Homo sapiens: one gene and its partners. The protein of the gene in region 1 interacts with the protein of each later gene in a pairwise test. Each region holds a gene or a part of one and is shown on either strand. Other genes may lie near its edges.

Region 1 (8,869 bases):
TTTTAATTGGGAATTAAATGTAAGTAAGATAAAAGTAGATGTCAAGCCTGCCAGACTTCACATATCTGGATGATGTCTAAGCACTCATTAATTGTCCTATGCTATCTAGAACTATAAATCAAAGCATACTGTGGTAACTCAATGTGTTTCCATTGTATAAATTAACTAAAAATGATATAAAACATATTAAAAAAACAAAAACACTACCAACCATGTCTTTTCTAATTGAGACATGAAATATCAGAACTGGAAAGACCATGTTGTCATAGAACACACGTGTAAAGTTGAGTTTAAGTCTTTTTTTGGAGTTTTTCTAAGAGTTGAGAAAATCATATTAAACCTAAAATTTTAGTGAAAACATTAATTTTGGCTGTAATAAAAACACTACGAATAGATACTGAAAAACTTGGGGAATAATAAACAAAGCAGAATTCATGGTTACCATATTTACACATACTCTTTGTTGTGTTTCAGTGCCACATGATCTGATTCAAAGTAATAAACATCAGGATCATCATCTTCCTCTTCTGTAATGTGCTGACTGGCACTCTCTTTGGCAGATGGCAAATGTCCAATATTGAGTCTTGCCTCTGAGGGTGGTTTACTTACTCCTTCACTTCCATTATTTTGAGAGTCACAACATATCCCTTTTTCATTTTGAGAAATTTCACCAGGATTTGTAGGAGATTGACTTACATTATCACTAACAGTTGCATTTGTTTCATTAGGACTAAGATTATTCTCCTCAAATTGTCCATTTTCTCTGTAAGGAGAACTGTTTTTAGTGGGACTACCTCTGGTAGGGGCTGCCCTTCGTGGTGAGGTTCTCAGAGTATAACGATGTTCTTGAGGTTCTGATAAAGACATCATTTGAGCTGAAACACAGTCTAGAACAGGAGATGGTTCAGGTTCTCCGGAGGCTGGCATACTCTCAAGACTTGTGTCCAGTTCGTTATTGGTGTTTTCTTTACACTGCTCTTTTGAGGCACTGCTATCTCCCACCACATCTACTTCCTCCTCAGAATCCCTTAAAGATGACTGAGTTTCAGAAAAGGGCCCTGTAGCTGGCTCAGTAGTCAGCTGATTAACATGTTCCACAGGCAAGCAGGCAGTTACTATTTTGTGGTCCTCCAACTTGACCTGCACTTGTGAATCTGTGCAAGGCACCTTATGGTCTATATAACTGTCCTCCTTCCTACTATCAAGGAACATTGAAGTTTGGGTATCCGTATCCCCATTTTCAGCTACTGATTTTTCCTGTAACACATAGGAACCAATGCTATTTTGTTTAGTGTTCCCATCAGGCTGACAGTCATCACAGTTTATAACAGCTGAATCACTGTCATCAACACCATTGACAGCCAAATAGCCTGTGATTTCTTCAACTACTGCAGAATTAAGTGGCCCTTCCTCACTGACATTCACCTTTTTAATTTCCCTTTTCTCACAATCATCCAGTATAAGACATCGACAAGCTCGTTTAGTCCCTTGAAAATCTGCATCATTGTCCACTACTGTACTCCTCTGTTCTACTGACTCCTTGTCTGATTTTATAGGAGAATCTTCTTCTGAACTGTTTGGTGCTTCAGATCTAAGACAACGCTTAATTCTTTTTAAAACTGGTGAAACAGGTTCTGTTTGCCTTCTCTCACAATTTTCTATAGCCTGCCTTTCTATGTTATCCTTTTCTGAAGAAGAAAGTCCTCTTTTCCTAGGGCTTACCCATGATTCTCGGGTACTCTGCTGTTTTAAATCAGTGGTTCTCCCATTATTATTTCCTTTCTGAATTGGCACAGGCTCTGGTCTCTTCTTTGGTGATCTTGATCGTACTTGAGAATTAGAAGAGATTTCTTCAGGATGCGCAATGCTACGATTCCTTAAAGTTCTACCACAAAAAGATTCATCCAAGCCGTTTAACCCCACTGTTGATCTTGTAACACGAGTAGATCGGGAAGCAGCCATACTATGGCAAGTCCCTACAATACGGTCATCATGATCCACTCATTGGGAAACCTTCAAAAATGTAAACAAAATAATGAGAAAAAGGTAATAGTTAATATACCCAGAACGAAAGTATAAAGCTATAACTTTTTAATCCAAGTATACTTGGACATTACAGTCTATAACTATCTATATAACTGCCAATATTAAATTATGTGATAAAAATTCTTTAACGTTTCCAATAATGATATAAATTATAGCTAACAAGCATACAGTACTTAATATGTTCCATGAGTCTTTCTATATGCCTTACATACATTAACTCACTTAAGTCTCACAACAACTCAGATAGGTGCTACTATCATCCCTACTTCACGAATGAGATTAAAGCACACTCTGAATATTCTATCCAAGGTCACAACTCTAGTAAGTAGCAAGGCAGGGCTCTAGAGACCATAACTGCCTCACTGTGTATCTGCCTCTCAGGCATAAAACACCCAGAAGAGATCTATCCTAAAGATGTGATTTCATTTTGGTCATTAAAATAATAATCTTCGGCCGGGCGCAGTGGCTCACACCTGTAATCTTAGCACTTTGGGAGGCTGAGGCGGGAGGATCATGAGGTCAGGAGTTCAAGACCAGCCTGACCAACATGGTGAAACGCTGTCTCTACTAAAAATACAAAAATTAGCCAGGTGTGGTGGCACACGCCTGTAATCCCAGATACTCAGGAGGCTGAGGCAGGAAAATTACTTGAACCCGGGAGGCAGAGTTTGCAGTGAGCCGAGATCATGCCACTGCACTCCAGCTTGGGCGACAGAGTGAGACTGTCTCAAAAAAATAAATAAATAAATAAATAAAATAAATAAAATAATAATCTTGAACTTATATAGCAGCTATCTTTCAAAAAACTATTCCAATCATTTCTCGTGTTCTTTCAAAATGTTCCCGGTATACAGAAAGGCAGGCTCTCCTCTTTTTAATTTACTTTTGCTAAAATGAGTTTCAGATCAAATCCCTTAATAATAATCTGGCATCCAAAAATTTTTTATTGCAGTATAATTTTTCATAACTAAATAGACAAAAATCACAATGCTAGCTTGCATTGGCTAAGAACAAAACAAAGCAAACCCAAGCCTTCCTAGTCTCTAGAAATAAAGCCATAAATTAGCAAGTGAAAGGGAGTGTTCCAAAGACCAGAAAAGAAAATGGGGAAGAAGCCTCTGAAGCAAATACTTACATTTAAGAAATCAAGACTACTCCTGTAATCCCACCCTTTCCTTCTTTGAACTCCTGTGTATAGCATATGCCAGTGCCAGTTTTAATGTGTGGTTTGGGAGATGAGCAGGTATTCTGGTGTGGATGCTTGAGGTTTATATGACAGAAATGTAAGGGATATAGAAAAATGCCTTGATTGATCCATTTGGGTAAACTAGTGATTTGGTGATATTTTCCAGAGGCTCTCCCATCAAGCAGAATAAAGGAGCTGTTAATATTTGAAGTCTCTATTCCCCGACTCCTCTTCTGTTTAGTTTTCACAAGGTACCCTGTCATTTTATTTCCTAACTTTGAATGAGATGCAGGATGATTAGTTAGAGAAAGAGGCCAGTGGTGGCAATAGTGCAAAGTTTCACAGTCCCTTCCTCCTGCCTTTGGTCATCAACAGTCTCCCTTCTCATGTAAACCTCCAAATGCCATTCTGACTCCTACCCCTAAAAATCAAACACAATTTCTCCTTGCTTCAACTAGAACTATCTAACAGTGGAAAGTTTGGAAGAATTATAGAAGACACAGCAACATGCTACCACATATAAAAAAGAAACACTACAGGAAATAATCTCCCTGTTCCTGCCTGCTGACAAGTGAATTAAGTGAGAAAGTACCCTGTAAAATATTTAAGTTGCCTGAGTTTAGTGTTGTCTCAAAGTATGGCATACTTTTAAATTTTTAATTAACAATTTTTTTAAATCTTATAAGAATCACAAAACTAGCCCTGGAATTAAAGCATGGTTATATGTTCTACAGAATTTCATAGCAACCAAGTGAACAATAAGTACAAGACACAAATCAGAACTTAGAAACACATTTCTTACAGTAGTAAACTTTCATTGTTTGGGGGATTCATTAAAAGAACAGCTGACATTTAATTATCGTTTGCTAATATATTATCATGAAGATTACAATCTGTTTCTTTCATGGGTAACAAACACTGAGTGTCCCATAATTTTCCACTTTTAATTGTAAAACATTTAAGTTAAACTTCAAATGATGTTTTAAAAGAACACAAACTGGCCAGGGGCAGTGGCTCATGCCTGTAATCCCGGTACTTTGGGAGGCCAAGGCAGACGGATTACTTGAGGTCAGGAGTTCGTGACCAGCCTGGCCAACATGGTGAAACCCCGTCTCTACTAAAAATACAAAAACTAGTAGGGCATGGTGGCACATGCCTGTAATCCCAGCTACTCGGGAGGCTGAGGCAGGAGAATCGCTTGAACCCAGGAGGCAAAGGTTGCAGTGAGCCGAGATCGCGCCACTGCACTCTAGCCTGGGCAACAGAGCGAGACTCTGTCTCAAAAAAAAATAAAAAGAAAAGAACACAAACTGAAATACATGAAAAGCAACTTACTTGTTTCATGTATCCAAATCTGGCACTCTAAAGGGTTAAGATTACTTATTTTTAAATATTAAATATGTATGTAAATGCACAAAAAAAGCATAAGGCTAAGTTAAATTTAATAACTAAAATGCCTACAAAATCTAATACATATTATCTTTAATGTAAATTCAACTATACTCATAATTTATGGTTCAAAAATAATACTGACAATAGAAATACTTTATAAACACACAAAAGAATCTGTTAGTCTTTACTTTTTAAAATGCAATCCCAATTAAGGGCATAAAAACCTCTTAAATTATTCCAATAATAAGACTTCCTTAACCTTTTCTTTCCACACCAATCTGAATGGGAGCAAAATTTGCCTTGCAGTACAAACTTCTCAAAGAGAGACTATTTTGGATGAAATGAACCTATTATTAGTAGTACTAAAAACCTTTTTTTTATACATATATTCTTTACTATAAAATATCACCTATAAGCTGGTCATGGTGGCTCAGGCCTGTAATCCCAGGACTTTGGGAAACCGAGGTAGGTGGATCACTTGAGCCCAGGAATTCGAGACCAAACTGGGCAACATGGCGAAACCCTGTCTCTACTAAAAATACAAAAAATTTATCCAGGTGTAGTGAAGCCTGCCTGTAGTCCCAGGTACTAGGGAGGCTGAGTGGGAGGATCACTTGAGCCTGGGAAGTCAAGGGTGTAGTGATGTGACTGCCCTTCAGCCTGGGTGATGGGAGCAAGGCCCTGTCTTGAAAAAAAAAAAAAAAAAAAAAAAATCACGTATAGTAAGGCCTATCTTAATTTTTCACCATTCCACTGATTAAAATATGAAAACACTGATTAATACAAAAGTTAAATAAAATATGAAAACACTGATTAATATAAAAGATTAAGGTTCTTTCCATTTCTTCTGTACCCTAAAAATGCTTTTATTTCACTCAATAACTAGAACAAAGCCCTAGTGCTAGGATTGTCAAATTCTGTGCTATTGGGCTGTATTGAAAGAGAACTTGTTTTATAACAAGGATCCTTGTGGTACCTCAGGCTCTTGCAGCTCAATCACGGGCATCTCCTGGAAGCTTGTTAGAAATGCAGAATACGAGGCTCCGCCCCAGACCTACCAACGAATTAGGCTCCTAGGTGATTCATGTATGTATTAGGGTTTGAGAAGCACTGCCTTAGGCTAGTGAACCCAGACAGAATTCTAATAAGATAATAGTCATCAAGTTTCAAACTAAATTAGAACTATTTATAAAATACCCTTTAATTTCTTACTGGATCCTAATAATAAAAAAATTTATAAATAAGACCAAGGAAGCACCAAATGGAAGACTATAAAAAATCTTACCTGAAATTAACATGTGATGTGCACTTGAGGTAATAAACTGGTTAAAATTATTAAGATCAGAGTTAAACAAAATTTTGCTAATCTTCCCTCTGATCATTTTTTTCTGTTCTAACCTTTTTCTTCATATCTTTTCTATTTTGGATAGGCATATATAAAGGTACACACTTTCTATAATTATCTAATAAACTGAGTGCAAAATTCAGTTAATAAAAAGGGACCAAAAATGTCTAGATTAGCCAGGTGCAGGGGCAGGGAAGTGGGGGCACCTACAGTCACAGATACTCAGGAGGCTGAGGCAAGAGGATCACTTGAGCCCAGGAGTTTGAGAACTGCCTGGACAATAGTGAGACCCTTTCTGTTAGAAAATAAAAAATAAAAAGTCTGTATTATCTCAACCAAGTCTCAACATTGTTTTGCCAAGCTTAGCAAAATATTATAGACTAAAGCAGTTGTTTTCCTCATTTTAGCTGCATTGCAAAATGTTTCTTAAGAATACAATAAAGAAGCTTAGAGTACAAAATTATATTTCTGCCAAATATTGTTAAGGAATAAAAATGAACTTATTTACAAATTATCTCAGGAAATAACCCTGTTGGCTAACAAAATAAGAGGTATATGGTAAAAACCTTAGCCAGCATCCATCTGAAATTAGAAATGCAATCAATCTAGTTTTAGAAATAAGGGAAGCCATTAATTAACATATTCATATGGGCAAAACGCAATCTAACTAACAACTACACTGGAGTTTTTCCTATATGTTATCTACCAAATAATGAATGGTTGCACTTTCTAGAATTCAGAGAAAAAAGAGTGTGGTCAGTAACTAGAATTAACCAGACTCCCTCCCTCTCTTCCCCACCTTCATAAATTCTCATCCTCTTGGAGGCCATATCTGAGAAGGACTAGTCAACCGAATTTCAACTTGTCCATTCATATTAAGCCCTCAATCCTACCTATAATTTCACATATCCTACCCACATATTTGCTGCTGAATTGCCCTCTCATAAATTTGAATCTACTGTTACCCAAATATAACTATAGGATTCTGAAAAACACTCTTTGAAGCATTATCAGCTACATTTCAGGTCATAAATTTCCAGCTCCTATGATCATACCTGTAGAACTGTACGCATAAGAACTAAAACAGATAATAATTATTAAACAAAAAAGGCCCACCTAATGACACACTTCTCCAGCTATTTACTTAAGAGAAAGAAATTTCAAAAAGATATTTCAAAGACCTTGCCTATAAGCTTTTGTTCCTACTATAATCACCAAAGTGGTACAGTTTATTTTGGGAATTGAGCAGCTGGCAATCTTCCATCACACCAATGGTTTAGCTGATATTTATTATCATAATATTTAGTTTTATTAAGTGAAAAATTTTTAGTAAACTGGTCATGATACCAGAATATATTCACATAGACAAACCAAAGTAAAAGGAAAAAAGAGCAAATGCAACTGGAAAGTGTAACCAATATGATTCTTTTTCTAGTTGTCTAAACATAAACTATTTAATAACGTTGAGGCCATGTTTGTCATATAATTATTTTAAGACAATACCTCAGCAGTGCAATTACCACCATATCTATAATGTTAAAAGTAGAAGAGTAAAACCTGGCTGGTAACCCACCCATGCAATTCAACTTAAGGTTCTTAAATAGTCACCTCTTTGAAGTCTGGGAACTCTATTATGCATTGTTTTACATAAAGAGACTTCTTATTTCTTTCCCATTAAGAGAAACTGATATATGACAGATGGTCGGTAGGTAGGTAGGTAGGTAGGTAGGCAGGCAGATAAGCGGACAGTCAGACAGACAGACAGACAGATAGACAAAAGTAAATGAACACACACTTTAAAAGACGATCAGGAAAAGGAAGTCAAGGAATTTCACAATGCCTCCTGAGTAAAAAATTCCAACATAATCAGTCACTTCATTTATACCCCATTGAAAAAAAAAGGGAGGGAAATATTTCATTCCTAACCCATTCCCTGCAGCTCCATACTCCTATAAACAGCCAGCCAAACTACAAGTTGCCACCCAGAGGATGTATGGAAAAATAACAAGTCTCCCCATCTCAAAAAAAAAAAAGAAGAAGAAGTCAAACTATAGCTGTCTTCACTACTGCAAAACTAAATAACTTACCTGTACAACCAAAGATCTATCATTGTGGAAATATAATCTCTTTTCCTTATATCCTGAAGGAGTTGGAGCTATGATCTAGAATGGAGCTTAAGCATCAGGGTTTCAGACTCTCTCAGCTTCAGCCATGAAGAATACTAGAACCTCCTAAATTTTTCTTTAAAATAAAATAATGAAAAAAAAGGATTAAAGAAGATGATGAACTTATGCTAATAGATTTACTCCTTCTATAATAAGAAGAAATACAGGTACAGAAACTGTTCATAGTGACATCTTTCATGCTTCTCGGTAACTCTGTAGCCTCAAGAATACTAAGAAACTGAAATAGGATTTTTAGAAATCAACAAAAGCAAACCAAAAAGATACTAAAATATACCAAATCCTTACAACTCAATATTAGTTTGAACTGAGTCAAAATGTGACTTGCTCTTTTCTAGACATTGCTCTAAGGGAGTATTTTTTTTTTTTTTTGCGGTGATAAAGGTTGCCCTTGATAGCATTTCTCATAACAGAATTTATAATATCATCTCGTACTCTTGTCCTAGAGGACTTCCCAAATTCTCGACATCAAGTATACATAACCATTTAGGTTATGCATAAAAGAATCACACAAATAATCAACCAAATCTTCTATACCTATAGGAAAACCTTGATGCTTATTCAAGTGCTACAAAATTCAATTACAAAAGGACATTTCTATTATTTTTGGCATATGTATTTTTAACAAGAACAAGAACAACAAGGATTTTCCGGTTTTAGTACCCAATTAGCCAGACAATTTAATTAATCTAATTACATTCCATTTCTTAGAACAGT
Region 2 (6,426 bases), on another chromosome or scaffold:
AGGAAAAGTTGAATGAATGGAGAATTGCTTTGTAAGATAAGCTTTCATTGCCCCTCCAAGAAGAACAGTATTTTTGGGAACACGTCTGGTTAGATGTGGGAAGAGTGGCAATGAAAGGACGTCTTTCCTTACTGCAGGGTCTGCTTTTTCTCTAGGAAAAGAATCAGGCTACTCTTGATAAGAGGATGGTGACTTCCATCATCCAGGAATAAAGAATACATTCATCTCCTCAGATTTTCCCCCATGCCATAGGTTCTAATCACCAGCCTCACTGTTTCTGTAAACTAGTTTCTTCTGAGAGCCATCCAATTTCTTCCTTGCTGTCCTCTATTCAGGTGCTGAGAAAGCTCATAACTTTACTCTGGTATAATTTATTTCTTACAGGAAAAGCTGCAGGTAGCCCTGCAGAGGCTGATAAAGGAGGATCAAGAGGCTGAGAAGCTGGAAGATGACATCAGACAAGAGAGAACCGCCTGGAAGGCAGGAGGAGACACCTCCTAAGGGATAATTAGACAGGAATCTGGGCAGGACCCTGGGCTCTATCACAAGGAGACCCCTTCCTCTTTGCTGTGCTAGAATTAACAAGCATAGAAGTCATTTGATTAGGTCTCAATTTAACTCCTTCCCTGTTGGAGTTTAGGGGCTGGAGAGTAGACATATCATAAATCAACACTATATTTGGAAGTGAAGGCATGGAGGGAAATATCTGTGAAAACGCTTCCTGTGAATCCTGTGTTCCATTTGTGTCATCAGGTTTGAGGCTCCAATCCTTCCAGTAAACACCCTGGAGAAAGACCCAGGATTCCCTGTTTAGGGGGTTTCAGTAGGGGGATTTTTTTGTTTGTTTGTTTGTTTTTTGAGACAGAGTCTCTCTCTGTCATACAGGCTGGAGTGTAGTGGCGCGATCTTGGCTCACTGCAACCTCTGCCTCCCTGGTTCAAACGATTCTCCTGCCTCAGCCTCCCGAGTAGCTGGGACTACAGGCATGTGCCACCATGCCCAGCTAATTTTTTGTATTTTTAGTAGAGATGGGGTTTCATCATGTTAGCCAGGATGGTCTCAATCTCCTGACCTTGTGATCCACCCATCTCAGCCTCCCAAAGTGCTGGGATTACAGGCATGAGCCACTGTGCCAGGCCAGGTAGAGGGATTTAAGATACAGAAAGGCAAAGTTGTTCAGGACAGGTGTCTACAATCCAAGCCTCACCCAGGCATCACATTTTGTCTCAGATTAGGCCTCAATAAAACTGACTTGAGTGTATTGCTTTGGGAGGAGCTCAGGTTAAAAAGTAGAAAAACATGGCTTCACCAGAAATTGTGTATTGGCTTTTGCCTCCTATTCCTTTTGAGAACTCCCTGAGGAAAACTGTTCTTATCCTGTCTCCCAGGCTCATACAAAGCAGGCCTTCAACCAGCCAGACTGACTGCCTCTTTCTCTTTTCATTCCCAAGAATTATATCCAGATCGAGAGACAGAAGATTCTGAAAGGGTTCAATGAAATGAGAGTCATCTTGGACAATGAGGAGCAGAGAGAGCTGCAAAAGCTGGAGGAAGGTGAGGTGAATGTGCTGGATAACCTGGCAGCAGCTACAGACCAGCTGGTCCAGCAGAGGCAGGATGCCAGCACGCTCATCTCAGATCTCCAGCGGAGGTTGAGGGGATCGTCAGTAGAGATGCTGCAGGTAAGACTTGGGATGGAGCACCTACGTAAGAGATTAGGGGAAAAACACAGAGGCCGATTTTCCTTCCCTTCCCAGTCTCTAGGCTTTCTTCTGTGTGGTGACATGAAATGGTTCCTTTGGCCCGGCATGCCCCTTTTATGCCCATCATTTCAGGGGTCACAGAGATCATTAAGTGTATGAATGGGAAGGGAAATTCCCATTATTATTCACTTATGAGAGCAGTGTAAAAATTTGAGCTTGGAGAGGATTCTTTGTACCATGAGCATATCAGTTTTAGAACTTTCCCATCACATCAAAAACATTTCTCATGCCTGTTTGCAGTCAATATCTGTTTCTACCTCCACCTCCTGGCAGCCTATCTGTTTTCTGTCTGTATAGAATTGGCTTCTCTGGACCTTTCAATATGAATTGAATTATAAAACATGTAGTCTTTTGCATCTGGCATCTTTAACTTAGCATAATATTTTGAGGTTTATTTATATTGCAGTATGTATCAGCATTTTGCTCTTATTGCTAATACTATTCCATTATCTGAATATATCATATTATGTTTATGTATTCACCAGTTGGTGGCTATATGAATATTTTCCAGTTAGGGACTATTATGAATAATGCTACAGTAAACATTCACTTACATGTCCTCATACAAACATGTTTTCATTTATCTTGAGTAGATTTTAAGAGTGTTGTATGTTGTGGCCGGGCGCGGTGGCTCACGCCTGTAATCCCAGCACTTTGGGAGGCCGAGGCGGGTGGATCATGAGGTCAGGAGATCGAGACCATCCTGGCTAACAAGGTGAAACCCCGTCTCTACTAAAAATACAAAAAATTAGCCGGGCGCGGTGGCGGGCGCCTGTAGTCCCAGCTACTCGGGAGGCTGAGGCAGGAGAATGGCGTGAACCCGGGAAGCGGAGCTTGCAATGAACCGAGATTGCGCCACTGCAGTCCGCAGTCCGGCCTGGGCGACAGAGCGAGACTCCGTCTCAAAAAAAAAAAAAAAAAAAAAAAAAAAAAAAAAAAAAAAGAGTGTTGTATGTTGTTTATGTATAAGTTTTAAGTTGTCGTACTATTTTCCAAAGTTGTTACTCACTTTATATGAGTAACAATACAAAAGCTTATAAAAAGCAATATAAAAAGTTTCTAGGTTCTTCACATCCTTGTTAATACTTGATTATTTCCTTTTTTTTTTTTTTTTTAGTTACAGCCTTTCTAGTGGGAACATAATGGTATCTCAATGCAGTTTTGATTTGCTTTTTCCTAATAACTAACACTGCTGAAAAGCTTATTATTTCCACATGTAGATTCTGTACCTTTTTAAAGAGTTTTTTCTGTTTTACTTTTGGTGCTATTGTAATTTTTTTTTTATTTCAAATTTCAATTCTTCATTGCTGGCACATAGAAAGGAAACTGACTTTAGTATTTTAATCTTGTATATTGCAACCTTGCTATAATTACTTATTAGTCATAGAAGAGTTTTTTTTTTAATGTCAATTCTTTGGCATTTTCTACATGGAGAATCATGTCATCTGAGAATAAAGTTAATTGTTTCATACTCTGCAGTTTGTATGGTTTTTTTTTTTTGGTGTATTTTTTTGGAGACGGAGTCTCTTACTGTTACCCAGGCTAGAATGTGGTGGCACAATCTCACCTCACTGCAACCTTCACCTCTCAGGTTCAAATAATTCTCCTGCCTCAGCCTCCCAGGACTAGCGCACACCGCCACACCTGGCTACATTTTTTTTGTATTTTAGTAAAGACAGGGATTCACTGTGTTGCCCAGGCTGGTCTCGAACTCTTGAGCTCAGGCAATCTGCCCGCCTTGGCCTCCCAAAGTGCTAGGATTAAAGGCGTGAGCCACCGCGCCTGGCCAGCAGTTTGTATAGTTTTTATTTGTCTTTGCTTGTTTTATTACACTAGCTAGGACTTCTAGTACAATGTTCAACAGGGATGGTGAGAGGGGATATCCTTTCCTTTTTTCTGACCTTAGGGGGAAAGTACTCAGTCTCTCACTTATAAGTATGATGTTAGCTATAGGAGTCTTTTTTTTTTTTTTTTTTTTTCAGATTTGTAATGAAGTTGAGAAACTTCCTCTTTTTTTCTTTTTTTTGAGACGCAGTCTCGTTCTGTCACCCAGACTGGAGTGCAGTGGCACGATTTCGGCTCACTGCAAACTCTGCCTCCCGGGTTCAAGCGATTCTCCTGCCTCAGCTGGGACTGCAGGCCGCCCACCACCACATCCAGCTAATTTTTGTATTTTTAATAGAGACAGGGTTTTGCCATGTTGGGCAGGCTGGTTTTGAACTCCTGACCTCAGATGCACCCGGCCGAGAAACTTCCTCTTTATTCCTAGTTTGCTGAGACTTTTTATCATGAATGGTGTGAATTTTGTCGAATAGCTTTTCTGCCTCAGTTGATATAATCATATGATTTTTCTTCTTTATTGATATGGGAGATTACATTAATAATTTTCAAAGATTGAACCAGCTTGCATACCTTGAATAAATCCCACTTACTTGTGGTGCACAATTTTTATATATATTTTGTTGGATTTGTTTTACTAACGTACTGTTGAGAATTTTTGCATCTGTGTTCATGAGAGATACTGGTTTCTGGTTTTCCTTTCTCATAATGTCTTTACTTGGCTCTGGATTAGGGTAATGCTGACCTCATAGAATGTGTTACAAAATAGTCCATCTCCTTTCATTTTCTGAAACAAATTTGGGGAGAATTTTAATAATTTCCTTCTCCAACTTTTGGTAGAATTCATCAGTTTACCAATAAAACCCACTAAGCCTATTTTTAAAGTGTTGCTTAATATTTTGGAGTATTACAGCTGTCTGTTACTGATTACTAGTTAAATTCTATTGTTGCGTAAGAAAACATTTTGTATGAGTTCAATTGTTTACATTTGTTAACGTGTATTTTGTGGTATAGAATGTGTTATAGCTTGGTTAATTTTCAATGTGAGCTTGAGAAGAATAGATATTTGCCTTTAGATGGAATATTCTATGAATGCCATTTAAATCAGTTGCTATATAGTGTGCTGTTCAGGTACAACTGTAGCGGTAATCATTTCCTGTGGCTGCTGTAAGAAATTGTCACAAACTTTATAACTTAAAACCTCATACAAAAAAATTGTCTCATAGTTCTGAAAGCTCAGAGCCCAAAATCAATGTACCAGCAACCACCAGAAGCTAATAGGGAAGCGTGGAACAGATTACAGCAGGGACCAACATTACCAATATCCTGATTTTGAACCTAGCCTCAAGAACTGTGAGAGACTAAATCTCGGTTGTTTAAAAACCATACAGTTTGTGCTGCTACGTTGTTAGAGCAACCCCAGAAAATTAAAACGCCTACCATTTTTCACTGTTTTCTATTGACCGTACTTGCTCTTTGCTTTTTTTTCCCTTCCTCTCTTTTTCTGCCCTCTTTTAACTATTTTGTATTATTCAATTGATTATTTTATATTATTCAATTTTCTTTCCTCTCTTAGCTTATTAGTTATATATTACTAATATACATCACAAATATAGCTATATTAGTTATATATAATATACATAACTAATATATATTAGTTATATATTACATATACATAACGAATATATATTAGTTATATATTACATATACATAACTAATATATATTAGTTATATATTATATATACATAACTAGTATACATAACTAATATATATTATATTATATATAGTTATATATAATATATAACTAATATGCCTAAAGGTATATATATAAATATAACTAATATGCCTAATAATATAACTAATATAACTAATAATAATATAACTAATATGCCTAAAGGTATATATATAAATATAAAACAAACATACAAATATATTTGAAATATAAAAATATTTTAAAAATATAAACTTTTTATAAATATATAAAAATATATTTTAAAAATATAAATAACACTATACATATATATATAAAGGCTTAGTGGTTTCCCTGGAGTTTGCAATATGCATTTACAACTAATCTAAGTCTAATTACAAATAACACTATACCCCTTCACATGTAGTGCAGGTACCTTAGAGCAGAGTATCCTCAATCTTGAGTAACGTTGCTGTCATTCATTTCACTTATCCATAAGCTGTAATCGCCCACTACATTGTTGATATTATTACTTTAAGCCATTATCTTATATATTAGTTGAGAATCAGAAAAACAAAATATTTTATTTACCTTTACTTCTTTTTCAGTGCTCTTTCTCTCTTTGTGAAGATCTGAATTTCAGACATATACTCTTCTTCCCCCTGAATAATGTCTTTTAACGTTTATGGCAAAGTATTTCCTTCATTATTGCGGGACAAAATTTCTGAATATAAAATTCTTGAGTCATGGGTGTTATTCTTTCAAAACTTTAATATTTATTCCACATGCTGAACTTTTACTAGTTTTAGTAGTTGTGTGTTTGTGTGTGTATATTCTTTGAGATCATTTACATACTGAATCATGCTGTCTGTAAATAAATATAGTTAATTTTAAAACTGCAACTTTTATTTTAGATACAGGGAGTATATGTGCAGGTTTGTTACATGGGAATATTGGGTGATGCTGAGGTTTGGGATACAGATCCCATCACCCAGGTAATGAGCATATTACCCAATCAGTAGTTTTTCAACTCACACACCCTCCTCCCTCCCCTAGTGTAGTCTGTAGTGTCTATTATTTCCATATTTATGTCCACGTATGCTCAATAGTTAGCTTCCACTTATAAGTGAGAAC
Region 3 (8,376 bases), on another chromosome or scaffold:
TCAAACTTTAGCCCCATCTTCTCCGTCTTCATTGTTTCCCTCAGGGATCAGCTCCTCCTATAACTCCTGCTATGTCCTTTAGTTATATGCCCCTAACGTCTCAGGGCTCCTGCCCAACATCCATCCACAGGGGCCTCCTGGGGCAGCTGCTCTAAGACAGCCCGCATCAGCTCTCCATCTGTTTCTACCTGCCCTGATATGTCACTGTGCTCAATCCCCTAGGGCACACAGAAGGCCCTCAGTAAGTGTGTGCCGTATGAATATACAAAATAATGGCATCAGGGATCCCTGTGCTCATTCACATAGCTAGGGACAACAGGATTTCATCTCCAGGAAACTCAGTAGTATACTTTTGTGACTTCTCTCTTTAAGCACCAAAGCATACTTTCAGGGAAAAACAAAAAAGAGATTAAAAATGTAAAGAATTCTTTCATGCTGCTTGGAGAGGTGAGGGAAGGTAGCCCACTGAAAGTGACAGAGAAGAGCCCAGTTGTTCTTGGTGTACTACATCAGCACAGCCACAGATGAATGCTGTTTCTGAAGCCAATGATGAAGACTTTAGTCTGGAAATGAAACTCCAGCTGAGTGAGTGGAAAGCAAACAGGAAACCAGAGGTGACAAGCTGATCCAGGGCCTACTGAAATCATACATATCTTCTCATGGATTGGTGGGCAGGGCAGGCATCCTGGGATGAGAAGCCCAAGGGCCATCTCCTGTGCCCTTTCAGCAGCAGCTCATGCTCTGCGTGACCTAAGCAGCACCATCTCAGCCACAGATAGCCGGGGAGAGTCAGCCAATGGCAGGTGCAGCAGCTTGGTGACCCTGAAGTCCTCTGGACAGTCATTAATTTACTAATCCTGAGTAACTGGCATTGAAACACAAAGCTCACATATGATGGCCAAACCCTCCCGATGTTTTTCTGATAACTTTACAAAACTGAAAGCTACAGAGTCCACCTAGAATGTTTCTGAATGCTGAATCAGAAAGTGTACAGACCGCTCCCTACTAACCCTAGTGGTCCAATAGTTCAATATATTAACCGAGGCAGGCTTGTGTCCAAATACAATGTACATGCTGCTGCTTTTTGTCTATAGCAAAAACATAAACAGCCATGCTTAAGCTATTTATCCAGAGGTTTCCTAAATCCTATCAATGTCAGAAAGTAATCACTATTTTCAGAACTTTCATTAACTTCATTGTAGAAAAGGACATCGTCAACCATGTGTCGGCCCGGTTTGCTATCTGTGGAGGTCATGCAAGAGGTCAAAGGTCATGTCTGTTTAACTCCTCTCTACTCCAGTGATCTTTTAGAAAGAAAACAGAAGAAAGCCAAAGCTTACCACATCAGAGAAACCACTGTCATCATGCAAAGATTTGGAACAGACAGGAACCTGGGGGCCTCCAATTTTGACAATATCTCTTTCAAATTGAAACGTGAGTTACTTTAAGCAAGTTTGGTGTTTCATTCTGTTGGAATTTACCACCATGAGCATTTCCATAGACTTCGGATACGGGATCTTTGATTCTCTATAGTAAAGTCTGTGAGTTCCAGCAGATGCAGCGACCCATAACATAGACCTATGTCAAACCCTAATGTAGGTGATAACTAGCAACTTCATTCGCAGGTCTTCACCACTGTCATTATGAGCCATATCCTGCTTTCTCCACTGTGCTACACGTGACATATGTTAACACAGCCATCAAGTTTAGCCTCTCAGACTTCTGCTGAAAACAGAGGAAAAGGGTTCCGTTTAGGGTATAGTAAAACAAGTTAAATGACACCACAGGAAGAAACAAACAAATCCAGAAAGCAGAATATTCTACAGCACAACTGACCCAGTTTTTACAATAAATAAATAACATGGGGAACTGAGGAAGGGAGGGGAGCTTGCTCCAGACTGACAGACTAAAGAGACACAACAACCAGATGCGATTGGTGGGCTTCATATAGATCCTCGATTAGAACCAGATTACTGTCCAAGGACATTCATGACCTTCAGGACAATTTGATTTTGCCTAGGTATTAAGTGTACCAAGGAATCACTTTGTTAGGTATAAAAATGGTACTGTGGGCCGGGCGCTGTGGCTTATGCCTATAATCCCAGCACTTTGGGAGGCCTAAGCGGGCGATCACGAGGTCAGGAGCTCGAGACCAGCCTGGCCAACATGGTGAAACCCCATCTCTACTGAAGATACAAAAAAAAATTAGCTGGGCATGGTGGCGCACACCTGTAATCCCAGCTACCCGGGGGGCTGAGGCAGGAGAATCGCCTGAACCTGGGAGGCAGAGGTTGCAGTGAGCCAAGATCACGCCATTGCACTCCAGCCTGGGCGACAGTGTGAGACTCTATCTCAAAAAAAAAAAACAGAGGTACTGTGGTTTATACAAGAAAATGGCCATATTTTCCATAGAAACTTACTGAAGGATATAGGGGTGAAATGATAAGCTATCTGGGATTTGCTTTTAAATACTTTAGCAAAGAAGGAAACAGGGAAAATGAAGCAACTGGGACAAAATCTTGGTAATTTTTATATCTGGGTGATATGTATATAAGGCTTCAATGTACTATTCATGTACTTTTGAATATGTTTAAATTTTTTCATGCTTAAAAAATTCATGTAAATCCAGGTGATGATTCTCAAAAGAAAATTTTAAAGAATTAATGTTGAAAATTGAAGCACTTAACTAAAAATATTTGGTAATAAAATGTATAAAAGTCCCAAATCTACACTATAGGAAACCAGCTTATAAAAACACAGTTTTGTCTTTTCCTTGGGAAGAATTCTAAGAAACAGAAGTTCTAGTGCTAAGAGTCTGGATCCCCTGGCAGCCAGAGAGCCTGAGTGGCTCTTTTCCCTCTTCTCTCCCTGCACACCACATGTCCACAGGGCAACTGACCACACCTGCCTCTCCCTGGCCAGCAAAACCAGCCAGGAACTGGCTTCAGAGAGCTCAGCCTCTGTGCCATGTTCCCATATGTTTCTCAGGTTTGGGGCAAGGGTGACATGGAGAGGGAAAGGTTTGCTTGTTGTAACAAACAGTGATTTCTCTGGCCCCTAAAGAGAGGTGGGTTTACAAAGATGATCCATGTTAAATTCCACTACCATGATGCTTCAAGGGACTAACAAATGCTTCATGGATGGATATACCTGCATCATAATCTCGTTAGTAGTACATTCCTGAATTCCTTCAAAAAACACTCTTATTACAATTTTTAAATAATAGATTACTTGATATTCCTTTTTACATCTGTCAGTGACACATGGAGTAAGTAGAGCTCACTACTGATTAACACCCTTCTAGCTTCTAGCTTCAGTGGCCGTAGACCCTCAGTTCAGGAGTCAAAACATGCAAATGATGGGGGGAAAATGACCCTTAGTTCCTCCTTAACTCAGTAAGTCAAATAATGACTTGGTGAGTTGGCTGCTGTAACAGTAAATCTTATATTGCCACACATTCCTGGAAGCCACAGACAAGACACTTGTCCTCTCCTTCAACTCTCTGTTGAAAGAGAAAAGTAAAGAAAACACACCAAGATAGCTCATCCAATTTTTGTGACTTGTTTAATCTAATTAATTATATAAGTAGTAACGGCAGCTAAAATCCAAATCAACTTTAGCTTCATAAGAATTGTTATAGGCCAGGCGCAGTGGCTCACGCCTGTAATCCCAGCACTTTGGGGGGTCAAGGCAGGAAGATCATTTGAGCCCAGGCATTCAAGACCAGCCTGGGCAACATAGTGAGACTCCATCTTGTATAATTATTAAAAATAAATAAATAAAAATTTTAAAATAATTGTTATGACACAGTGGCTCACACCTGTAATCCCAACATTTTGAGAGGCCAAGGCAGGAGGATTACTCGAGCCCAGAAGTTCTAGACCAGCCATGGCAACATAGTAAGACCCTGTCTCCACAAAAAAGTTTTAAAAATAAGCCAGGTGTGGTGATGCATGCCTGTAACCGCTGCTACTCAGGAGGCTGAGGTGAGAGGATCACTTGAGCCTGAGAAGTCAAGACTACAGTGAGCCATGGTCGCACCACTACACTACTGCCTGGGCAACAGAATGAGACCCCGTGTCAAACACACACACACACACACACACACACACACACACAAACTGTTATACTGGCTGGGGGCAATGGCTCACACCTGTAATCCTTGGACTTTGGGAGGCAGAGGTGGGAGGCTTGCTTGAGCCCAAGAGTTCAAGGCCAGCCTGGGCAAGATGGGAGACCCCATCTCTACAAAAAATTTAAAAATTAGTCAGGCGTGGTGGCACTTGCCTATAGTCCCAGCTACTCTGGAGGCTGAGGAGGGAGAACTGCTTGAGCCCAGGAGGTTAAGGCTGCAATAAACCGTGATCCTGCCACTGCACTCCAGCCTGGGCAGCAGAGCGAGACCCCGTCTCAAACAAAACAAAACAAAAGAAGAATTGTTATTTAAAGTTAAAACTCACTATCTGTCGAGTTCCTAATTCTTTTTCCACCTTACAACTATTCTCCAAAACAATGCATTTGTAGTCACCAGAATTGCTTGAATTTCTGGGTTATAAAATGTGTGAATACTCCCCATCCCAATTTCTTGAATTTAAGAATGCCACTTCTGGCCAAGCGCGGTGGCTCATGCCTGTGATCCCAACACTTTCGGAGGTGGAGGCAGGTGGATCACGAGGTCAGTAGATCGAGACCATCCTGGCCAACATAATGAAACCCCATCTCTACTAAAAATACAAAAATTAGCTAGGCGCAGTGGCACGTGCCTATAGTCCCAGCTACTCGGGAGGCTGTGGCAGGAGAATCATTTGAACCTGGGAGGCAGAGGTTGCAGTGAGCCGAGATCCCGCCACTGCACTCCAGCCTGGTGACAGAGCAAGACTCCGTCTCAAAAAAAAAAAAAAGCCACTTCTCTTTCTGAATATTATTAATATAAGTAACTGGGTTGGTTTATCTTAGGTATATGATTAGATAGCATGAAAAATACCTCAGGTTCCAGTTTAAATCATTGCGTATTTAAGCACTGATTTTACCAAATGTAATATATAAAGGCAAACAATTTACACAACTTAAATTGTTATTTTTCTTTTTTCTTTGCTTCTAGATATGATGCCTTAAGAACAATTCAACAGCCAGGCATGGTGGCTCATGCCTGTAATCCCAGCACTTTGGGAGGCTGAGGCAGGCGGATCACGAGGTCAGGAGTTCGAGACCAGCCTGACCAACGTGGTAAAACCCTGTCTATACTAAAAATACAAAAATTAGCCAGGCGTGGTGACACGTGCTTGTAATCCCAGCTACTCAGGAGGCTGAGGCAGGAGAATCACCTGAACCTGGGAGGCGGAGGTTACAGTGAGCCGAGATCATACCACTGCACTCTGGCCTGGGCGACAGAGCAACACTCTGTCTTAAAAAAAAGAGAAAAAGAACAACTCTATTTGTTCACATAAATTTCCTTCAACATACATTGCAGCTAAGATGTGTACAAGATTTTACATGTATTTTGGAAGAAATCACACAGAAGCAGCTGCTTTTTCAATAAACTTGGCCAGCTTCACATCTTTTTTGGTCAGTTCACCACAGTCATGTGAGGTGAGAGTTATCTGGACCTAAGAAAAAGAAAAGCAGTTTTTAAAACTCTGAGCAGCAAATCATGGTTATTTTCCTTTGGCAGTTCAGAAATCAGTCTATTATTCAACATTCATATTTGAGAATTAGGGGGATTAAATGATTTAGAAAATACTACATTATGAATAAGCAAAACATTTCCAAAACCCAGCGAACTCCAGGGGCATAGTCTACATTAGGCCTGGCTCAACAGCCACCTTGAAATAAAAAGTTCTCTTCCATGAAGAGGCAATGCAGCTGCCAGAATCTCAAATCTTGTTTCTTTAAATAAAAAGAGAGACTGAGGTTCCAATTGAACTCTCGTTACTTTAATTACATCAACTATTTTCAGGCCACTGAGAAAAACCAAGCTATCAAATGTAATATCTTAGCAGCAACGTTTAAAAAGCACATTTTGGCTGGGCATGGTGGCTCACACCTGTAATCTCAGCACTTTGGGAGGCCGGATCACCTGAGTTCAGGAGTTTGAGACCACCCTGGCCAACATGGTGAAACCCCGTATCTACTAAAAATATAAAAGTTACCCTGCACGCCTGTGATCCCAGCTACTCGGGAGGCTGAGGCAGCAGAATCGCTTGAACCCGGGAGGTGGAGGCTGCAGTGAGCTGAGATCGCAGCACTGCACTCCAGCCTGGGCAACAGAGCCAGACTCCAACTCAAAAAAAAAAAAAAAAAAAAAAAAAGCACATTTCTAAATTAGGGAAATGGGAGTAAAGGATGGAATGCTGTTTCTTGATGAACTGATTATAAAGTAAAAGCAAAATTACGAGCAAAGAGAAGCAAATAGCAAAGAAAAGTTTAGCCTGGTACCAAGGTGCTCTGAGTTATTCTATTAAGTCACGTGAGTATTGTGAAATTCTCTTTTTTCAAAGATTTTCACAGAGAAGACTTCATAGAAATCTAGATGATAAGACATTTCAAATGGCATGACCATAAAGGCAAGGACACTTTGGGAGGAACAAGGTTCTTCTCACTGTGTTCCCTCAAAACTTTTTAGTCTGTCCTTTGTCTTAAATAAGGTCATTTCCTACGCAGGATACAAAATTTAATAGTTTTCAAAGCACAGTTCTTGAGTAAAAATATTTCAACGAGATAAATGAGGCCATATCTATCTGATTTGCTACCATTTCTTTCAATAATTTACCTTAAGTTTTGAAACGTATCTGCATGGCTGATACTCCGGTTTAATTCAGGAGCCTCATTTGGCCCAACTTTCTCATATTAGCTTCAGTAGAAAGACAAGCATGAAAATAAAGAGCTTATTCACTGTTCTTAGGAGCAGACCTGAAAATGTGTTACTAATTTGCAATAATACACAGGGATTCTGAGAGAAAGGATAAGACTTTCTTAAGTACAATGACATTTAGCTGCACAAGATGACAAGGAAGAAAGAAGTTTCTTAAACTCCATAATTAAGGTGATTCCCAAATAAGGCAGTTTAGTTACCTTGTTGTATACATTGAACCATTCTGGGTGATGATTCATCTTCTCTGCTTGTAGGGCAACTCGGGACATAAAGCCAAATGCCTGCATAAGATGAAGTCAAGAGTAATTACTGACATTGTCCTCTACCCTAAGCCTGAGAGACACAACAGAGCAATCCAACCACATAAAGGCAGGCAAGGATCCTTAGGGAAGCCTGTGGAAATCAACTATGAAAGGACTGCTCTCTGCAGGCCTCTGGGGTCACAGTGCAGCAGGACTGTGACCTACTGCTGGATGGTGAAAAACTATCAGGCTCGAGTAAACAAACCAGGAAATTGGTCTCACCTAGTGACCCGTCTGGACTATTTAATTGTCCTCAGGACAAGACTCTACAAAATAGCACGGGAATAATTTCCCTTCAACCCAGTGCTCTGGGTCTCACTACCTGGCTCCAAATATTAGGAGCCACTTTTCTTGCAGCTCTGTTCCTTTTGTTTTTAGTGATTGGGTTGCTAACTAAGGCAACCCACAAGACTATGGAAAAAGGTCTCCTGAGGGTGTCTTAAGCAAAAGCACCAGCAGAAATGAACAACTTCTTCATCTCACCTCCCAGGCAGGACAGGAACAAATCAAAGACTATTGGCACCTAGAGTGAAACAGAAGCCCAGCTTGCCTGCTTGGGTTCTTCCTGCTACTGCCCTGCACTGCCATTTCAAGGTGACAGTGCACCCACCTCAGGGCAGAAGGCAAGCCAGGAAATGAGCAGAGGGCTGCAAACCAGTCACACGACTAAGTGTGGACTGACGGGGCTCTGTCTTTATACCACACGGGGAGTGGAAACAATTTTGTTAAGCAGAAGGTAAACTTGTCTTCAGAAGAAGGAAAAAACTCATTTTTTTGTTTGTTTTCAATTTTTTATGAAGGTAACTGCAAACAATAGGAGAGTCTGTCTCTATTGTTCCAGAATGCACAAATACTTGGTAAGACTCTTAGGGTAATGGCACATGAATTACAAAGTTAGAGTGGCATTCACAGGGCAATACCCATTACACCCACGTAAACAAATATTTAACTTCATTACCCCTATCCAGAAAAACCAATATGATGTTAGTCAAGCCATGTTTTTGGGATCACCAAATGACCTAAGTGTGTATTTCCTAGTTAACAGTGAGAAATACAGAAGATGCCATTTTAAACAATTCTATATCATTCACTATGGTACCTCTCTCGGAGCCAATTTTATTTGGGATAAAAGTTTCCATGTTGACATTTGAGGCCTGAAGGTTTTCCCTATAGGAAAAGGGAGAAAGTTCAAGCAAAATCCAT
Region 4 (8,869 bases), about 170 Mb from region 1:
TGCGCTGCTTCTCTGTGGGGCTCCCCAGCTCTTCTGTGCAGTACGGGCCATGCTGGGAGTCCTCGTCCCCAGAGCTGGAGAGAACGATCTCGATGGTCACTTCTTCATCCAGGCTGTTCTCTAGAGATCGCGGGTTGCCGCCAGCTACAGGAAGGCAACATGCAGGTCAGCGACGCTGCACAGGCCACATCCCAGCCCCTATGACCGCGGCGGAGGAACACTCAGCTTGGAGTTTACAAACCCGTGTTTTTACAATGGTCCTCGGTGACCGGGGCGGCCTGGCCAGCCCTGCAGGGGCCACTGGTGTAGCCTGTGAGGAAGAAATCTTCAGCATGGGCCCCGCTGTGTCCAGAGCATGCTGGGCACCTTGCTCTCCCTCTTCCCAGCCATTTTCCCTTATCTCCACCCCCAACCCTTTTGTTCTCTACCCACGGAGACCACCCCATCCCCCCAAGCTCTAGGAGTCTGTATTTATCTGGGTAAAGCCTTGACCATTTACAGATCATGCACTTAACAAGGCATGGGGGAAAGCTCTATCAGGATAGTGAAAGGACTTGAGAGAGGAAGACTCTACAACCTACACATATCATGTGCTGGGCACTTGCATGCTCCAGGGACTGTGCTAGACTTGACATGCACATTCCTATTTGCTCCTGGACGCAACCCGATGACCTATTGGTTGCCATGTTTACACATAAACTAAGGTGATCTGTGCCAGGAAGGAGGGCTGAAATGCTACTCAGCCTTGCTAGGCTGCTCAACAGTCCCAGACTGCCCAGAGTCCTGGGTCCCCCACAGCTCCCCGGCTCCCAGTAGCACCGCATTTCTGAGGCCACAGGTGGTGATGGATAAAGCTGCTCTGGACTTCCTGCATCCTGAGTCTGTGATGTTGGGAAGGTGGAACCACGGGGCGGGGCTGGGTGGACAGTGCAGAGCCCGGCCTGAGGTCCCGGCTTATGGAGCAGAGCCCACCATACAGGTGGCCTGTTTCCTCACTGCTGTGAAATGTAGAACTCAAATCTAGAACTTGGGGGGAGTGAACCAGGCCCTCCCAGATAAGAGTAGGAACATGGTTAGTCTGGGCTTCATGACTGTGGGGAGGAGAGCCCTGGCTAGTCAGAGCAGCTCAGGACAGGAGAAGTTGGACAAACAGAAGCAGGGCAGGAAGACACAGAGGCTATGGAGAGCAGAGAGATAAAGGGCAATGGTGGAAGCGGAGGGGGCATTTGTCCCTCAGTCACAAGGGGGTCGGGGGAACATGAGTCTGGGAGTGGGTACTGAGTCTGCCAAGAACCCACGTAGTATAGGAGGGAAATCATCAGATGAAGACAGAGATTGTGTTTGTGTGTGTGCATGTGTTTTTAATTTTTTGTACAGATGGGGTCACATTATGTTGCCCAGGCTGGTCTCAAACTCCTGGGCTCAAGCGAGCCACCCATCTCAGGTGATCCACCTGCCTCAGCCTCCCAAAGTGCTGGGATTACAGGTGTGAGCCACTGCGCCCGCCGAGAGGCTATGTTTGACGCTTATCTCGACTCTTGGTTTTCGAGCTGCAGGAACCTCGTTCCAGCCAGACAGCTTCTCTGAGCTTGGGTCATCTCGTCTACAAGGTGAGAATGACAGTGGCAGCCCGTTGCTCTAAGCTGCTGGTGGGGCAGGTGAGGTCATGTGTATGATGTACTTTGTGGACCTCATGGGGTGGAGACAAGAGCAAGGTGTAACTTTTACCAGGCTGCCGATGACAAGGTACTTGATCAGCAGTTGACTTCTGTTAATGGACTTGGGTGGAAGAAGAAAACAAAGTGACAAGGTGGACCGCTAAGATCTCTTACTTGTTAACTGGGCGAGGAGATGGAATTATGAGAGCAGACAGTGCATGTTATGGGCGAAATTGTGTCCCCCTGAAAATTTACATGATGAAGCCCTAACCCATAGAGCCTCAGAATGTGATTACTTGGAGATAGGGTCTTTCAAGAAGTAATTAAGTCAAAATGAAGTCAGATGGTGGGGCCAATCCAAAATCACTGGTCTTCTAAGAGGAGGAGACTGGAGGCAGACTTCAACAGAGGGAAGGACCCTGTGAGGACACAGCAAGATGGGAGCCGTCTCCAAGACGAGAAAGGCCTTGGAAGACACCAGCTCTGCTGAAGCCTTGATTCTGGACTTGTTGCTTCTGGAATTGTAAGAAAGTAAGTTTCTGTTGTTTAAGTCACCCAGCCTGTGGTACCTTGTTATGGTAGCCACAGTAGACTAACATAGACTTTGGCACCAGGAAGTAGGGTGCAGCTAAAACAAAGACCAAAAACTGTCGAAGTGATTTTAGAACTAGGTCATGGGGAGAGGCCAGGAGAGTTCTGAAGTGCATGTTTAAAAAGCCTTGAGGAAGTGGCTGGTAGAAATACGGACGTTATAGGAAATTGGAGAAAAGGAGATCCTCCAATTATAAAGTGGCAAAGAATTTGGCCAAACCATATTCAACTGTTCTGTGGAAACAGAAATTGTAAGTAAGGAACTCGGATACTGAGCTGAGGAGGTATCGAAGCAAAGTGTCAAAGGCAAAGACTAGTTTTTTGCCGCTTATAGTGAAACGTGAGATGAGAGAGATAAACTGAAGAAGGAATTGTTGTAGCAAAAAGGAACCATGACTTCAAGATTTGGAAAATTCTGTCTATCCATACGGCAAAAAATAAGAAAGCGTGCACTGGAGAGACACCAAGAGTGTGGCTGGCTCATCATTTGTTAAAGAGATTCTGGGTATGATTCACGGATCCAATCAACCATCTCAACAGAAGCCAGGAACAGAGATGAGGTTATCCAGGAAGGTCTATGGAGGACACCCTCGTCTGACGGCCTGCAACCCTGTGGACTGCATGGAGGGCAGGGTTTCTGAGTATTATATACCAGCAGAAACACTGCCAGCTGGAACTGAAAGGAAAAGAGATGGGATGAAATAAAAGAAGGCTAGGACTTCTGGGATTCTACAAACTGGCCGATAGATCTATCTGGCTATGAATATGTACTATCCTTCAAGAAAAGGGAAGAATGACTCCAAAGGTGGCTCAGAGGTTACAGGACTGCCACTGTCATCATGGGACCAGAGAGTACAGGCTCAGGAGGTGAAGTCATTTCCTTCTGAGTTCCAAAGAGCAGGGCCAGTAGCCTGCTGGGCCTGGAGAACAGAGAACTGAGCCAGAGGTTATTGCTGAGCCTTAAAATCCCATGGAAATGACCTGCTAGATTTTTTTTTTTTTTTTTTGAGATGGGGTTTCGCTCTTGCTGCCCAGGCTGGAGTGCAATGGCATGATCTTGGCTCACTGCAACCTCTGCCTCCTGGGTTCAAGCAATTCTCCTGCCTCAGCCTCCTGAGTAGCTGGGATTACAGGTGTGTGCCACCACGTCTGGCTAATTTTTGTATTTTTAGTAGAGAGAGGGTTTCCCCATTTTTGCCAGTGCAGTCTCGAACTACTGACCTCAGGTGATCCGCCTGCCTCGGCCTCCCAAAGTGCTGGGATTATAGGCACGAGCCACACCACACCTAGCCCTGACCTGCTAGATTTAAGACTTGCTTGGGACCCATTACCCTTTCTTCTCTTGGATTTCTCTATTTTGGAATGAGAATGGTCTATGCTATGCTTTTCTCACAGTTGTATTTTGGAAGCAAAAAACATCTGGTTTCACAGTTCATAGCTGGAGAGGGTTTTGCCTCAGGATGAATCATACTTCAAGTCTAACCCATACCTGATTTGAGATGTTGATATTTAGATGAGATTTTGGACTTACAGTTGATGCTGAAACAGGTTGAGAATTTGGGGGCTGTTGGGATGAGGTGAATGGATTGTGCATGTGGGAAAGACATGAATTTTGAAGGTCCTGAGGGTGAGGTCTTACAGGGGATGAATTGTGTTGTCCCAAAATTTCATGTTGAAGTCCTAACCCTAAGGACCTCAGAATGTGACTGTATTTGAAGATAGGCTCTTTCAAGATGTAATTAAGTGAACATGACGACATATGGGTGGGTGGGCTCCCACATATGGTGGGAGGCCGAGGCAGGAAAATTGCTGGAACACGGGAGGCAGAGGTTGCAGTAAGCCAAGATCGCGCCACTGTTCTCTAACCTGGGTGACAGAGCTAGACTCCGTCTGAAAAAAAAGAAAAGAGCTATTGGTCTAACTGCCAGTATATGCATTAAACCATTTAATCCTTAGCAATAACTGTACAAGGCAGCTTTAACTATTATTTCTGTTTTCCAAATAAAAAATGTAAGGCAGAAAAGTGAAATTGCCCAAGGTTTCAGGGGAATTGAGCCAGTGGAGATGGGACCAGGGCTCGTGGCCACATAGCTAGCAGGCAGCCAGGCTGCTGCAAGTGCTTGTTGCAGGCGGAGTGGCAAAGGCATGCAGCGTGCAGGTAACTCCATGACTATCGCCTCAGGAAGGATGCTCTGGCCAGGAATGAATGACTTCCTGCGAGCTGAGGGGATTAAGGGGAACAGCAGGGGAGACTAGGAAGCTGGATGTGAAAAACCAAAATGATAAAGGCATTATTAAAAACTGTAAAATATTCTTGTAAAGTTAGAATGGGGAAGCTTTCTCAAGCAAGGCATAAAACCAAAAAGATGACGAATAAGTGTACCTACAGTTAAAAACTGTAAGAAAACATTTAAGCCAGGCATGATGGCACACGCCTGTAGTCTCCCCAGCTATTTGGGAAGCCAAAGCAGAAAGGCTGCTTGAGCCCAAGACTTCAAGACCAGTCTAGGCAACATAAAGAGACCCCATCTTTAAAAAACAAAACAAAACAAAACAAAACATTTATATGCTGCAAGACACATAAACAAAGTTGAGGGAAATGGAAGAAACTATGTATGAATACAGCAGAGGCAAGGGATTCAGACCCAAAACTACAACGACACGTGGGTTCAGGTAAGAATCAGAGACTTGGATTTGGTATTTAGAAGAACCTATGAAAGATGGCAGTTTCTATGAATCCACAGAAAAAGCAAACCGTGGTTTGGTAATGTAGAGTAAAAGCCATGGGTCTGAAGCCTGACAGCCTGAGTTCAAATCTTTTTTTTTTTTTTTAAGATGGAGTCTTGCTCCGTGTCCCAGGCTGGAGCGCAGTGGCGTGATCTTGGCTCACTGCAACCTCTACCTCCTGAGTTCAAGCAATTCTCTCTGCCTCAGCCTCCCAAGCAGCTGGGATTATAGGTGCCCACCACCACGCCTGGTTAATTTTTATATTTTTTAGTGGAGATGGGGTTTCGCCATATTGGCCAGGCTGGTCTTGAACTCCTGACCTCAGCGATCTGCCTGCCTCAGCCTCTCAATGTGCTGGGATTACAGGCGTGAGCCACTGCACCTGGCCGTTTTTTTTTTCTTTTTCTTTTTTTTTTTGGAGACAGACTCTCGCTCTGTTGTCCAGACTGGAGTGCAGTGTCATGATTTCTGCAGCCTTGACCTCCCAGGTTCAAGCGATTCTCCTGCCTGAGCCTCCCCAGTAGCTGAGACTACAGGTGTCTGCCACTGTGCCTGGCTAATTTTTGTATTTTTAGTAGAGACAGGTTTCGCCATGTTGGCCAGGCTGGTCTTGAACTCCTAACCTCAGGCGATCTGCCCGCCTCGGCCTCCCAAAGTGCTGAGATTACAGGCATGAACCACTGCGCCCAGCCTGAGTTCAAATCTTCACTCCACCACCTACAGCTTGTGAGCACTGGACTCTGGGCAAGTGACTTCAGCTCTCGGGTGCCCCAGCTGCAATACAGAGACATCATGCCACCTATCTCAGAAGGTGCCATGAAGATACAATGCACAGAATCATGTCATCATGTAAATCACTGAATCCTGGTGCAATGTTTAGGACATAAAGAAAACAAGTATGAGTGCAAAAATAAATAAATAAGGATAAATGAATACTAACTAGGCAATTCATAGAACACAATAAACAAGAAAAGATATTCCACCTCAGTGGCGGATGTAGTAGCATTATTTGATTGGCACAAACTGAACATCTGGGAGTGTCCTGCGTGGGCATGGATATAGAGAAGCAGACCTTATCACCAGCTATCCGGCATCAGCTGGCGGGAAAAGCCTTTTAGGAAGGCAAGCTGGCAGGAGCTACCAAAATAAGTACAGTGCCCACTCTTTGAAATATATCGTCTCTCCCCTTTCTCAGTAGCAACCCTTGGCTTCTGGCTGTTTCAGAGCAGTCTGTGTCAGAGTCCAGCAAGGGAAGAATGGAGTTGAAAACTCCTGTGTATAAATGAACATCCATCCATCTTCTAAAAGTATATTGATGGGGCTGAGAGACATGCTATGGGCAGAAAGAAGCTAGAGAAGATTCAAAGTGCACCACAAACATCAGGCCTGCGCTTGAACTCCAAGTGGACCCCAAATGAATGCATCACTCTTGGCACGCAGAGGTGGGCTTCTTAGAAAACCAGGGGTGGGCATCCATGCTTGTGGAGCAGGATCTCATCCTTTCAGATCTCCCACACTAGAAAAGCCCCTTTGTCCATGCATGAAAGGGGGCCAAGTACAAGATGCATGGAGCTGGGTCAAAATGGCATAAATCTTGCCTTCAAAAGCATCACAGGTAGAAGAGATAATATGTGTGAGTTGGTCTCCATAGCTGCAGAAAACTACAATGACACGTGGGTTCAGGTAAGAATCAGAGGCTTGGGTTTTGTATTGAGAAGAGAAAGATGGCAGTATTGTAGCCTCTGCTTCTGGAAGTGGTGACTTTTACCAAGACGACTCAGAGTCTACACTGTGGCTATTTCTCTGAAAGCAGGAATGGAACATACACTTTCCAAGAGTCCTGTGCAGCTTCAGTATGCCAGAAACCTGCTCTTTAATCCCAGTTCCAAGATTCTGTGCCAGGATGCTGGCCATCCATGCTGAGAGAAGAAAAACACTCACTGCATCACCAACAGCACTACAGCAGCACCCTGCTTTGACACACCCTCCCCGGCCCCTGGGAAAGGCAAGGAGGGTGAGCCTGGGATTGGGAGTGAGCTGGAGAATGACCCCAGCACAACGGAATCAGGGCAAGCAGCTAAGAACACCACAGCAGAGGTCGGCGGGGATCCTGAGGGGTTCAGTTCCTAACTGTCCCATGCCATCACCACCGCACATTTACATCACACACCCACATGCCCCCAACACACAGGTGCACCCATGAATGCACACACTCACACATGCAGCACACCACATATACCACATGTGTATGCACGCACACATGCATTCAACACAACCATCCCCTATGCCACACATGCATACATACATTCATGCGACACACCACAGACACACAGGGACAAACCCATACCTCCCTGACCCTTCTTTACCTGGGTAGGTGTTTTGAGGCACCACCGTCTGTGGGCAGGCCTGGAACTCTGGCACCTGCAGCTCCTCACGTTTCCTTCTTTCTTCTACCTGGAATGGCTGGAGACTTGGAGAGTCTTTCCAGAGGAGGAAATGGAAAAATTGATTTGTTTTGCACCTACAGCACTACCTGGGAGGGTGCTATCCGAATAGATGCCAGGCTACGATCTGGGGGCGGCCCTGGGCTCCGTCCTGGGGACTGGCAGGGGGTGGCCACTCAATAAGTGTCTGCTGAGTGAATGAACCTGAAGGCAAAATGGGCCAACTCCACAAACATGAGCTCTGACGCTAGACAGAATCGACGTAGATCCGGGTTCTACTCCACCCACTCTATGGCCAGAGACAAGCACTTCCCCCAGCCCCATATTTATTCCCACTTTCTGTGGTGGGTTTTCTATAGTCATCACCACAGGCTCCTGCACACTCCGCACATCCTGCACAAACAGCTTGTGCAGAGCCTACAGGGTAGAGATGGTACAGGAGCTACTGCACCACACCAAGTCTCTGAACGCTTGTTCCAGGTGGGGATGGTGTGTCAAAACCTTGTCTGCTTCATGCCAGCTCTAGGTCCCAAAGGGGAAGAAGGTGTGGAGCTGCTGATGATTCTGTACAAAGCTATTTCCTCCTGAAGGAGCAGATGCTTCGAAGCACCATGGCATGGAGATCATGGGTGCAAGTGCTGGCGACACAGCCTGAAGGAGGGCTGGAAACTGCTGCTGCTGAGCCCCAGCACCTCCCCACACCCCAGTGTCCTCACAGCACCCCTGTACCAGGCAGATGGGAAGACTAGACAGGTGAGGCACCTCAAAGGGCTGCGCTCGGTGCCCAGTTAGGAGACACTCCCTCTGCAACTAGGCTTGTCATGAGTATCTGACTTCACTCCTGGAGGGGCTGCTGCATTGTCAGCACAAACCAGATGTTACTTACAGGCAGAGGAGAAAGACATTCCTATTATTTCCCAGTCCTTGGCCAAGGGAGTACAATTCCAATGCCTGGCAAAATTAAGATCCTCCATTCTTTCTATGAAAAGTCAGGGACAAGGCAAGACATGCAAGACCCACATAGAGTCTGGGGAAATGAAGAAGGCAATTAGGGGCCGCAGAGAGAAGCCAGAGAGTGGGCTCACCTCCGGCTGCCAGCAACCCTTCCCCCTACTCTGTCCACTCAGTTCTGGAATCATTACTCACCCAAGTAGGAGACCTGGGGCACTTCTTTGCCCTGGAGATCCTGCAACTCTGGAACGCGTGGCTCATTCTCCTCTCCCTGGGAGAGATCTGGCTGGGCAGCTAGGTCGTCTGTTCAAAGAAAAAGGCAGGGTACATGTTTATTAGTAATCTGATCCTGCAGCAACCAGGGCTGGTCCAGAAGAGAGAAGGCGGAGGGATGCCCAGCGGGCATGGCACCATCAGGGGCGAGAAGTGAAAAGGCCAGAGCTGGCAGTGCAGGGGCAGTGGGGGCAGCACACGCAGGGAGAGCTATGGGCTTGGGGG

The links.
Region 2: the proteins of ZZZ3 (region 1) and TRIM22 interact in a two-hybrid assay, tested with the Homo sapiens proteins (one large-scale study listed by BioGRID and IntAct).
Region 3: the proteins of ZZZ3 (region 1) and PCBD2 interact in a two-hybrid assay, tested with the Homo sapiens proteins (one large-scale study listed by BioGRID and IntAct).
Region 4: the proteins of ZZZ3 (region 1) and ZNF496 interact in a two-hybrid assay, tested with the Homo sapiens proteins (one large-scale study listed by BioGRID and IntAct).

The regions. Positions count from the first base shown.
Region 1 is NC_000001.11:77,631,393-77,640,261, forward strand, and holds part of ZZZ3 (ZZ-type zinc finger-containing protein 3), read right to left. Parts: intron 8,211-8,869; 5' UTR 8,080-8,210; coding exon of another isoform or gene 8,057-8,079; intron 2,014-8,056; 5' UTR 1,963-2,013; coding exon 458-1,962; exon of another isoform or gene 443-457; intron 1-442.
Region 2 is NC_000011.10:5,696,864-5,703,289, forward strand, and holds part of TRIM22 (E3 ubiquitin-protein ligase TRIM22), read left to right. Parts: intron 1-384; coding exon 385-480; intron 481-1,451; coding exon 1,452-1,682; intron 1,683-6,426. UniProt on the Homo sapiens protein: Interferon-induced E3 ubiquitin ligase that plays important roles in innate and adaptive immunity.
Region 3 is NC_000005.10:134,957,816-134,966,191, reverse strand, and holds the end of PCBD2 (pterin-4-alpha-carbinolamine dehydratase 2), read right to left. Parts: intron 7,153-8,376; coding exon 7,072-7,152; intron 5,607-7,071; coding exon 5,511-5,606; 3' UTR 3,548-5,510; downstream 1-3,547.
Region 4 is NC_000001.11:247,301,133-247,310,001, forward strand, and holds part of ZNF496 (zinc finger protein 496), read right to left. Parts: intron 8,675-8,869; coding exon 8,567-8,674; intron 7,457-8,566; coding exon 7,343-7,456; intron 6,896-7,342; coding exon of another isoform or gene 6,741-6,895; exon of another isoform or gene 5,570-6,740; intron 145-5,569; coding exon 1-144. UniProt on the Homo sapiens protein: DNA-binding transcription factor that can both act as an activator and a repressor.